Linked DNA regions of Homo sapiens. The protein of the gene in region 2 interacts with the protein of the main gene of each other region in a biochemical or structural test. Each region holds a gene or a part of one and is shown on either strand. Other genes may lie near its edges.

Region 1 (7,047 bases), on a different chromosome or scaffold from region 2:
ATGGTCTCTATCTCTTGATCTCGTGATCCACCCTTCTCAGCCTCCCAAAGTGCTGGGATTACAGGCGTGAGCCACCATGCCCGGCCTTTTTTTTTTTTTTTTTTTTTTTTTTGAGATGGAGTCTTGCTCTGTTGCCCAGGCTGGAGTACAGTGGCACAATCTCAGCTCTCTGCAGCCTCCACCTCCCAGGTTCAAGCAATTATTGTGCCTCAGCCTCCCGAGTAGCTGGGATTACAGGCATGGGCCACCACACTGGCTAATTTTTGTATTTTTAGTAGAGATGGGGTTTCACCACATTGGCCAGGCTGGTCTCCAACTGCTGACCTCAAATGATCCACCCACCTCAGCCTCCCAAAGTGCTGGGATTACAGGTGTGTGCCACCGAGCCCGGCTGGAAGGATAGTTTCTGACTAGAGAAATTATTAATATGAAACGATAGGTTAAAATAACAAAGTACTCCTGAGGGATGCAAAGATAGAAAGGTAAAGCCCAGACTCTAGTTGGGGAGACAAGAATCATTTGGACCATGTGAGTGGTTCAAAACCCAAGTATTGTCATAACCCAGGGTTGGCCTCTCCGTGGGCGCAGTCATCAGGGACGGCTGGAAGGACCAGGCTGTAGAGCACGGACTTGCCCTTGAAGGAAGCAGGGTCTTTGAGTAGGTCAGGAACTCGTTGTTAGACCTGAAGTGACTTTTTAGGACAGGCCTCGATTTTCCCTTGGAAAAATAATTTCTCTCTACCATAACTTCACCTTTATAGGAAAATGAGGAAGAAAGAAACTTGAAGGGTCCCAAAGCACTTCATATAAATGGGAGGTATTTCAGGCTGGTGGTTCCTAAAGTGTGTACCACAAAACACCAGTCCTACAAGATACACCTTGAGGAAAAGGCCTTCTAGTTTGGGAAATGCTAAAACTATATCTCCCTCTTGGTGATTCACCCTGTTCACTCTGAAAAGTCCTGCAGTCAGGAAACTTGCAACTTGCCTAATACTACTTTTTTTGTTTTTGTTTTTGTTTTTGTTTTGAGACAGAGTCTTGCTCTGTCACCCAGGCTGGAGTGCAGTGGTGCCATCTTGGCTCATTGCAATCTCCACCTCCTGGGTTCAAGTGATTCTCCTGCCTCAGCCTCCCAGGTAGCTGGGACTAAGGGCGTGAGCCACCATTCCAGCCTTGCCGAATATTGTTTAACTGAGCAGTCTCCAAACCTGTGACCATACCTCTTCCCTTCCCCCGCTCCAAAAAAGATGCATTACATCCCACAGAGCACACTTTGGGAAAGTCTGTTAGGGGCCTGCATGACACATTTTGCTTGCCAACTGTTATCTGTCTGAGTGCCAAACTTGAAAACAGCTTAAATGTTAAGTGTCTCAGCTGCCTCCCTTTCACTTGGGTGATAAATGCCTAACCCATTGGTATGGATCCCTTGCTTGCCTCTTGGGCCTAATCTGTTCCACCTCCGCATACCCTTTGCAGCCGCTATACCAAATTACATGTAATTCCCTGACCTTGCCCTTGCTCTTTTTTTTTTATCCGCAGTATCTTGCACAGGCTGTCCTCTCTGTTTGGGACGTCCTCTCCCTGACCCCCCTACAGGTGGCAGCTTCCTCCTGCTTGTTCATTCAGACTGGGCCCTCCCGTGAGGCCTTGACCAACCACAGCCTCCTGGCATGGGATGCACTCCCACCGCTCCTGGCATGGGACGCTTCCTCTTACGGCTCCTGCAGCGCTTTGCAAATGTTTCGATTACAGAATCCAACCTCAGGTTTTGCAATGTTTTCTTCACATGTCAGCCTTCCCAAAGTGCTGGGATTACAGGCATGAGCCACCGCGCCCGGCATGTGCCTGCTCTTTCATACGTGACCTCATGTAGTCTTCCTCATTTCTGTGAAGGAGGTGGTTTTATCTCCATTTTACAGATGCAAACATCGAGGCTTAGGGAACTCAAGTATCACGCCCAAGTCACATAATAATGAGTAGAGCAAAGATTTGGATCCAGGTCTGTTTTCTCCCAAATCTCATGTTTTGTTTTGTTTTTTCTACTGTACGGTGCTTGGGTTCAATAAATGTTTGTTAAACGATGAATGCGGTTGAATATGTTAACAGCCATGGAAACAAAGTCTTTGGGTAAGAATTTCCTAAACTGCGTGAGATTTTAGGCCACCATCTGGAGGTACCATCTGTATAATTTTTGGTTAACCTTAGGGCCACAGTTATGCAGAAGATATTTATGAATTAATCAGAAAATGTCATGTTGACATAGCCTTAGGGATATTTCAGTGGAACTATCCCAGAATCCTAGGTTCTTGCTACAAAAGTCCTTCTTTTAGAATAAGGTGAGAATATTGCCATCGCTCTATAGCACTGTACGCTTTATAGATAGTCTGGCGAATAACACATTTTAAAATCTATCGATATTTTTCCGAGTAACTGAATTTTAACTCATCTTCACAGAGAAACACGTTCCAGGCTGTTCTAGCCTCCTCTGATTCCAGCTCCTATGCCATTTTCCTTTATCCTGAGGATGGTCTGCAGTTCCATACGACATTCTCAAAGAAGGAAAACAACCAAGTTCCTGCCGTGGTTGCATTCAGTCAAGGTTCAGTGGGATTCTTATGGAAGAGCAACGGAGCTTATAACATATTTGCTAATGACAGGGAATCAGTTGAAAATTTGGCCAAGTATGCTTTCTTTGTTCTTCAGTAGATTCTCCTCTTAATATTTTTTAATGTGGATAATGTAATGTGTATTATAGATCATTACCTAAAAATGTTCCTATGGATTTAAGTTTTGCATATAGTTTTTATATTATGAGATACTCTTTTTCTGATGAACTTAAGGAAATGTATTTTTAGAATGAACAGATATCCTATTTTTTAGATATCATCCTCATTTAAAATAGTTCTTTTTTTTTTTTTTTTTTTTTTTTTTGAGACAGAGCCTTACTCTGTTGCCCAAGCTGGAAGGCTGGAGTGCAATGGCACAATCTCGACTCACTGCAACCTCTGCCTCCCAGGTTCAAGTGATTCTCTCGCCTCAGCTTCCCAAGTAGCTGGGATTACAGGTGTGTGCCACCATGCCCAGCTAATTCTTGTATTTTTAGTAGAGACGGGGTTTCACCATGTTGGCCAGGCTGGTCTTGAACTCCTGCCCTCGGGTGATCTGCCCACCTCAGCCTCCCAAAGTGCTGGGATTACAGGCATGAAGTGCCGCGCCCGGCCTTAAGACAGTTTTTACCATTTTGTCTATAAACACTGTTAGAAATAAGGGTTATTCAAACCTATCTCCTTTGATCTCAAGGCTGAGAAAACCTTTTCCTTCACATTGACTAGGGGGAATATTCTTACAACAGAAATGGTGCTCTCAGGTTATGTTGTAGAATTTGACAAAAGAGGGAAAAGCCCAAATTGGATTTTGAAGATTAAAACCTTTCCTCTCCCATTATTCTTTAAAAACCAAGAGTGAATCCCCTAAAACCACCTTTTAATTTTATATCTTCAAATCTAGCTTGAATTCCTCTGCCCTTCACTTAGTGATGTGCTGGTAAATGCTTAACAACTGGTTTTATGAGGGCAGAGGAACCTGATTTATAGCGTTTGCCTGTTTCTGTGATGTAAATACTCCTACGATGGCCAAGTTCAAGTTATTAACGTCATGTCACTCATTGAAGAGTTCAGAAAACATGCACCATTATATATATTCTCACCATAAAGATAAAATAGGTTTAATATATATAATTTCAAGAGCATGGACAGTAGCAAAAGGATTAGAATATGATGAGTTTTGAATATTTTTTCCTTTTAAAAAATATAACTTGTTTAATTGGAAGTTCATGTAATTTAATTGTTTAGAATGGCTGTGTTTAATAACTGGCTTGCAAAATTCCTAAAACTTTAACAGCCAGCTCTCACAAGCTAGTCCATATAAGCTCCCACACACCACTGTCTTTACTTGAATCCCAGGCAGACAAATTGATTAGACATCCTATTTATGCAGGACTTTTGTGATTTATCATCCCCACCCCACCCCATTGTTTTGCTCAGTATTTTCCACTGAGTAATGTATGTCCCCTCTGTCCACCGTATAATATAATTATTTCATGTAATTTCTGATAGGAGCACTTCCAATCACAGACACAGAAGAATGGTAAAAATGGTGGAGGAAGAAGTAGAGATTAGGGATATTCTACTATATTTTATAGTTATAAAATGCTTTTGGATTTTGTATCTCATTTGCTTTTCACCATATCCTTTAAGCACCAAAGGTAAACTGAGACTAGTCCAAGATCTCACAGCCAATGGAGTTGGGATTTCTTTTTTTGTTGTTTTTGTTGTTGTTTTGAGATGGAGTCTTGCTCTGTCGCCCAGGCTGGAGTGCAGTGGCACGATCTTGGCTCACTGCAAGCTCTGCCTCCCGGGTTCACGCCATTCTCCTGCTTCAGCGTCCCGAGCAGCTGGGACTACAGGCGCCCACCACCACGCCCAGCTAATTTTTTGTATTTTTAGTAGAGACGGGGTTTCACCATGTTAGCCAGGATGGTCTCGATCTCCTGACCTCATGATCTGCCCTCCTCAGCCCCCCAAAGTGCTGGGATTACAGGTGTGAGCCACCGCGCCCGGCCCTGGAGTTGGGATTTCTAAAAAACCACGTCTGCAATGTTTTCACTCACACTTCTGACACCAAATGGGTGGGGTTTTTTTTCCCACACCAACCAATTCTCTGCACACCAGCCGGGTGTCCTACACTTCAGTTCAATTCTAGCACTGGCGTTACTGCAGACCCCACAGGTTAAGGGCTCAGTCCCACAGGACTGCCCCCACTTCAGATGCCAGTCCCAAGTCCTGTGTTTCCACCTGTACTTCTGACCAACCAGCTATAAATGGAGGGTTTCCATGGCATGCTCCTCAGATTTGATAATTTGCTAGAATGGCTCACATAACACAGAAAAATGCTTCACTATTACCAGTTCATTCTAAAGGATACAACTCTGGAACAACCAAATGGAAGAGAGGCATAGGACAAGGTATGGGTAAGGGGGCAGGGTTTCTATGCCGTCTCTGAGTACACCAGCCTTCCCGCACCTTGATGTGTTCAACCCAGAAGCTCTCTGAACCCCATCATTTTAGGGTTTTTATGGTGGTGTTATTTCATAGGCACAGTTGATTAAATCACTGATCCTTGGTGATTGACTCAATCTCCAGCCCATCTCCCCTCCCTGGAGGCAGTGGGGAAAGCTGGACATTCCAACCTTCTAATCATGCCTTGGTCTTTCTGGCCACCAGCCCCCATCCTGAAACTGTCTAGGAGCTCCCAGCCATCAGTCAACTCATTAGCCTACAAAAGACACTCTTATCACTTCAGAAATTCCAAAGGCTGTAGGAGCTCTTGTTTCAGAATGTGAGGACAGAGACCAAACATGTATTTTCAATTGTATCATACCATGTCATGGAAAGAGATAGTGGAGAGCATGAATGACTTCAGTCCTAAAGCCACTGTCAGTCCTATGAGCCACCTTAGCTCATAAGGTAGAGCATGTAACCAGCAATTAGGATGAGCAAGTTGAATTTTAAGTCCTGATAGTGTCCCTGGAGCACACTTCTGGAATGGCTGGGACTGAGCTTGTGCTAGTATTGTGCCCATTTGGACACAGTCTCACCAGACAGCCCTAGACTGCCTCAGCCACATGACGCCCAGACATGACGGCCAGTGCCCTTCCACTCTCCAGTCCTAGCTGCAGGTGATGGCTTGCAGACCAACACAGATCCTCAGGGCTCCCTCTGCTTGGGTAGTGGTGGCTGTTGGTGGGTTGCTGGCCTGTTTCTAAGAAGCCTGTCCTTCCTCCTAGGAGTAGTAACTCTGGGCAGCAGGGTGTCTGGGTGTTTGAGATTGGGAGTCCAGCCACCACCAATGGCGTGGTGCCTGCAGACGTGATCCTCGGAACTGAAGATGGGGCAGAGTATGATGATGAGGATGAAGATTATGACCTGGCGACCACTCGTCTGGGCCTGGAGGATGTGGGCACCACGCCCTTCTCCTACAAGGCTCTGAGAAGGGGAGGTGCTGACACATACAGTGTGCCCAGCGTCCTCTCCCCGCGCCGGGCAGCTACCGAAAGGCCCCTTGGACCTCCCACAGAGAGAACCAGGTCTTTCCAGTTGGCAGTGGAGACTTTTCACCAGCAGCACCCTCAGGTCATAGATGTGGATGAAGTTGAGGAAACAGGAGTTGGTAAGACCATTTAAGTTGCAGTTGGTAACGATCTTGGATGTGTGGGCTTCCAGACAGGCGTACTGCTGGGGAGATGTCAGTTGTGAGCATTACATGGTGGTTTGTAAAGATAAGAGCTTGGGAAAGTAGAGGCTGAACTCTCACAGCCGTGGAGCCTTGGTGTTATATGCCCAGTGGCTTCAGAGATGCTCAGTGATCTTTTGGGATTAGGACCATGGTTTTGGAGACTGTTGAGTGTGTCTTCTTTCAAGTTTCCTAGTATTCCGTTCTGTCTGTTTTAAAGAGAAAACGTCCGTTAGAATTGTTTTGAAAGTCAGATTTTCTTGTGATTTCTCAGATCAGAAATGTATTCATCCACCTGAAAAAACATTTTAGAAGTTCTTTTGGCTGTCTATGAAGCTTATCTTTGACATTTATTTCCTCTTGGTTTTGGAATTAGAATTGTTGATTATTTTTCTTCCCAGGTCCCGTCAGTTTCAGAGTTGGTTTGTGAAGATTAAAAAATATATATATATCAAAGTAGATACTCTTTAAAAAAAAATAGGGTCGGGGGTGGTGGCTCACACCTGTAATCCCAGCACTTTGGGAGGCCGAGGCAGGTGGATCACAAGCTCAAGAGATTGAGACCATCCTGGCCAACATGGTGAAACCCCATCTCTACTAAAAATACAAAAATTAGCTGGGCGTGGTGACACACGCCTGTAGTCCTAGCTACTTGGGAGGCTGAGGCAGGAGGATTGCTTGAACCTGGGAGGCAGAGGTTGCAGTGAGCCGAGATCATGCCACTGCACTCCAGCCTGGCAACAGAGTGAGTCTCTG
Region 2 (2,827 bases):
GGGTCAGGCTATTGGGGCAGCCCAAGGATGTCCAGCAGGACTGTGGCCTCTGTGGAAGAGAAGGAGCTTAGAGAGGCCAGAGAGCCTTGCACTGTGTGGCTTGGCATCCAGGGGAGGGAGCTGGGCTTTATTCTGGAGCGCGAGAAGCCTTGGGAGGGCATGACATGAGGTGATTGACACTTTAGAGCCAGGCCCCCTGCTGCGGGGTGCCGAGCAGGTGAGATGGGGCATGTGTGTGCAGGGAGGCACGCGGGCTATTCTCACAGGTCCGGCTGCCGTGGGGCCCAGGCCTTTCATGCAGGCTGGGGAGTTTCAGGCTGGGTCCCCCAGCTGTGGGGACCCTGCCATTGCCCCTCTTCTCCCCCAGACGTGGATGAGTGTGCACTGGGTACCCACAACTGTTCCGAGGCTGAGACCTGCCACAACATCCAGGGTAGCTTCCGCTGCCTGCGCTTCGAGTGTCCTCCCAACTATGTCCAAGTCTCCAAAACGTGAGTGTCCCCACCCCAGTCCCAGTCCCAGGGAGCCTGTCCTGGTCCTGTACTATCCAGGGAGAGGCTGAGAGATGGGCGCCTGCCTTGATCACCTCCCTCTCGTCCCAGCCCCTGACTGCTGGGTCTGTGGGCTAGGTGACCAAAACAAATATAAGTAGCTTTTAGAGAGTTCAGGGTTGAGAGAAGGAAGGGGAAAAGACACACAGAAAACACCAGCCCTCTTCCTCATACACACACATGGTAGTTACTGCTGTGTGACCAGTTATCCCAACCAACATTTAGCACCAGAATACAACAGATACTTACTCTTTGTCACGCAGTGTCTGAGGGCTAGGAGCCTGGGAGTGGTGTAGCTAGGTGGTCTGGCTCAGGATCTCAGGGGCTGCCTGTCCGGGGTGCGGGATCCTGCCACTGCTCATGGGGCTCTGGGCAGGAGGCCTCAGCTCCGCATCACATGAGCCCCTCCACAAGGCTGCTTGTGACATGCCACTCCCCAGCTCAGTGTATCAGAAGTGCCAGCGGCAGCCCCTTAACCTCACTTAACCTCAGAACTGACAGACCGCTACTCTGCCACCAGCCACACGGCCCGGCACTTGGGAGGGACCCTGGGAGGGACACTGGGTGCACTGGGAAGAAGGGAGAAGGAGGAGGAAGGGAAGGGGAGAGGGAAAAGGAAGGAGAAAGGAAGAATGGGAGGATGGCAGGAGGGAGGAAGAAAGGAGCATGGGGACAGGTAAGAGCTGTTAACGAGCCTGGCCAGTGCCATGCTAAACTCACCCATTCCAGTGAGCCGGTGAAGGTTTTATTAACCTCATCTCGCAGGCAAGGAAACTGAGACCCAGGGGACGTAAGGGGACTTGCCTGAGGCTTCCCGGCCATTAGGGAGAGAGCTGGCCCTTGATCCTGCCGCTGAGCTGTGCCATCTGTGTCCCCGTCTGGGGATGAGGGGGGTGGGCGAGCTGTGGGTGACCCGGCCTATCCTCCCTGCAGGAAGTGCGAGCGCACCACGTGCCATGACTTCCTGGAGTGCCAGAACTCGCCAGCGCGCATCACGCACTACCAGCTCAACTTCCAGACGGGCCTCCTGGTGCCTGCGCATATCTTCCGCATTGGCCCCGCGCCAGCCTTCACGGGGGACACCATCGCCCTGAACATCATCAAGGGCAATGAGGAGGGCTACTTTGGCACGCGCAGGCTCAATGCCTACACGGGTGTGGTCTACCTGCAGCGGGCCGTGCTGGAGCCCCGGGACTTTGCCCTGGACGTGGAGATGAAGCTCTGGAGGCAGGGCTCCGTCACCACCTTCCTGGCCAAGATGCACATCTTCTTCACCACCTTTGCCCTGTGAGGTGCCAGCACGGGCCACCTGCGGGTGTGGCGCAGCCCAGGGCTCACACTGCGTGGGAGGGACTGGGTCACTATTGTGGTTTTTACTATAACTTTGTAAATTAACTTAATTTTGCTGACTTGACTCCTGTGGCTTCTGGACCCCTCCTCTGCCCCGCAGGAGGAAGTTCCACGGCAGGTGGTGCGTTCCCACGCAGGCACCAAGTGGAAGCTTGCACGGTGGGCCACGGCCGTGGCGGGTGCCCTGTGGGTGAGGCTGGGTGATGACCTGAGGACCAGAGACACGCGACCATGTTGGGGCTCTTGGACTCCTCTGGATGACCCGTCCCCAAAGTTGACATTCCATTTCATGTTCCACTGTGATTAATTCTTTTCTTTTTTAAAAAATCATTTTAAAGTTTTTTGTTTAACTATAAAGTAGTACATGTACATTATATAAAAAAAAGTTCAACTAGTATGAAAGGGTTATAAAGTAACAGAGGAAAACGCCTCTTGGTCCCTTTACTTTTGTAAAGTGTTCAGAGTTTGACAACGTTGTCCAGATGTCACAGGGCTCTATGGCCTGGCCAGCATGTCAATTCATTGATGAAGACCTTGATGTCCTTCTCAACGAGCCCCGAACCTGAAGTTCACTTTGGGATGAGGGCACCCCAGTGTGATCAGTCACTGACCAGGCTCTTTATTCTGCTTTTACCACTTCAGCTTTCCCTCCTCCTTCCTCCTCCCTCCTCCCTCCTCTGCCTTCCCCCCATGAAGACCTCCACTGATGGCCTGTCACTTGGATGTTGTCCAGAACTTGTCCTGGCCCCTGTTGCTGAGCTGTCAGGTCAGGCAGTAGACCTGGGCAGGAGCCTGAAGGAACCTGGGAAACTGAGGCCCTGAGAGCGGAAGCGATGTGCCCCCAGCCCACAGCGAGCATCAGAGCAGGTGTCGGGACCCAGCTCTGATGACCCTGCTCGGGCTCCGTGGGTCTAGAGTTAAATATA

What was found. The genes of interacting proteins can lie anywhere in the genome.
Region 1: the proteins of FBLN2 (region 2) and NID1 form a complex in vitro, tested with the Homo sapiens proteins (one study listed by BioGRID).

Annotation. Positions count from the first base shown.
Region 1 is NC_000001.11:236,041,091-236,048,137, reverse strand, and holds part of NID1 (nidogen-1 precursor), read left to right. Parts: intron 1-2,454; coding exon 2,455-2,681; intron 2,682-5,845; coding exon 5,846-6,228; intron 6,229-7,047. UniProt on the Homo sapiens protein: Sulfated glycoprotein widely distributed in basement membranes and tightly associated with laminin. Also binds to collagen IV and perlecan. It probably has a role in cell-extracellular matrix interactions.
Region 2 is NC_000003.12:13,636,078-13,638,904, forward strand, and holds the end of FBLN2 (fibulin-2 isoform a precursor), read left to right. Parts: intron 1-367; coding exon 368-491; intron 492-1,484; coding exon 1,485-1,842; 3' UTR 1,843-2,327; downstream 2,328-2,827. UniProt on the Homo sapiens protein: Its binding to fibronectin and some other ligands is calcium dependent. May act as an adapter that mediates the interaction between FBN1 and ELN.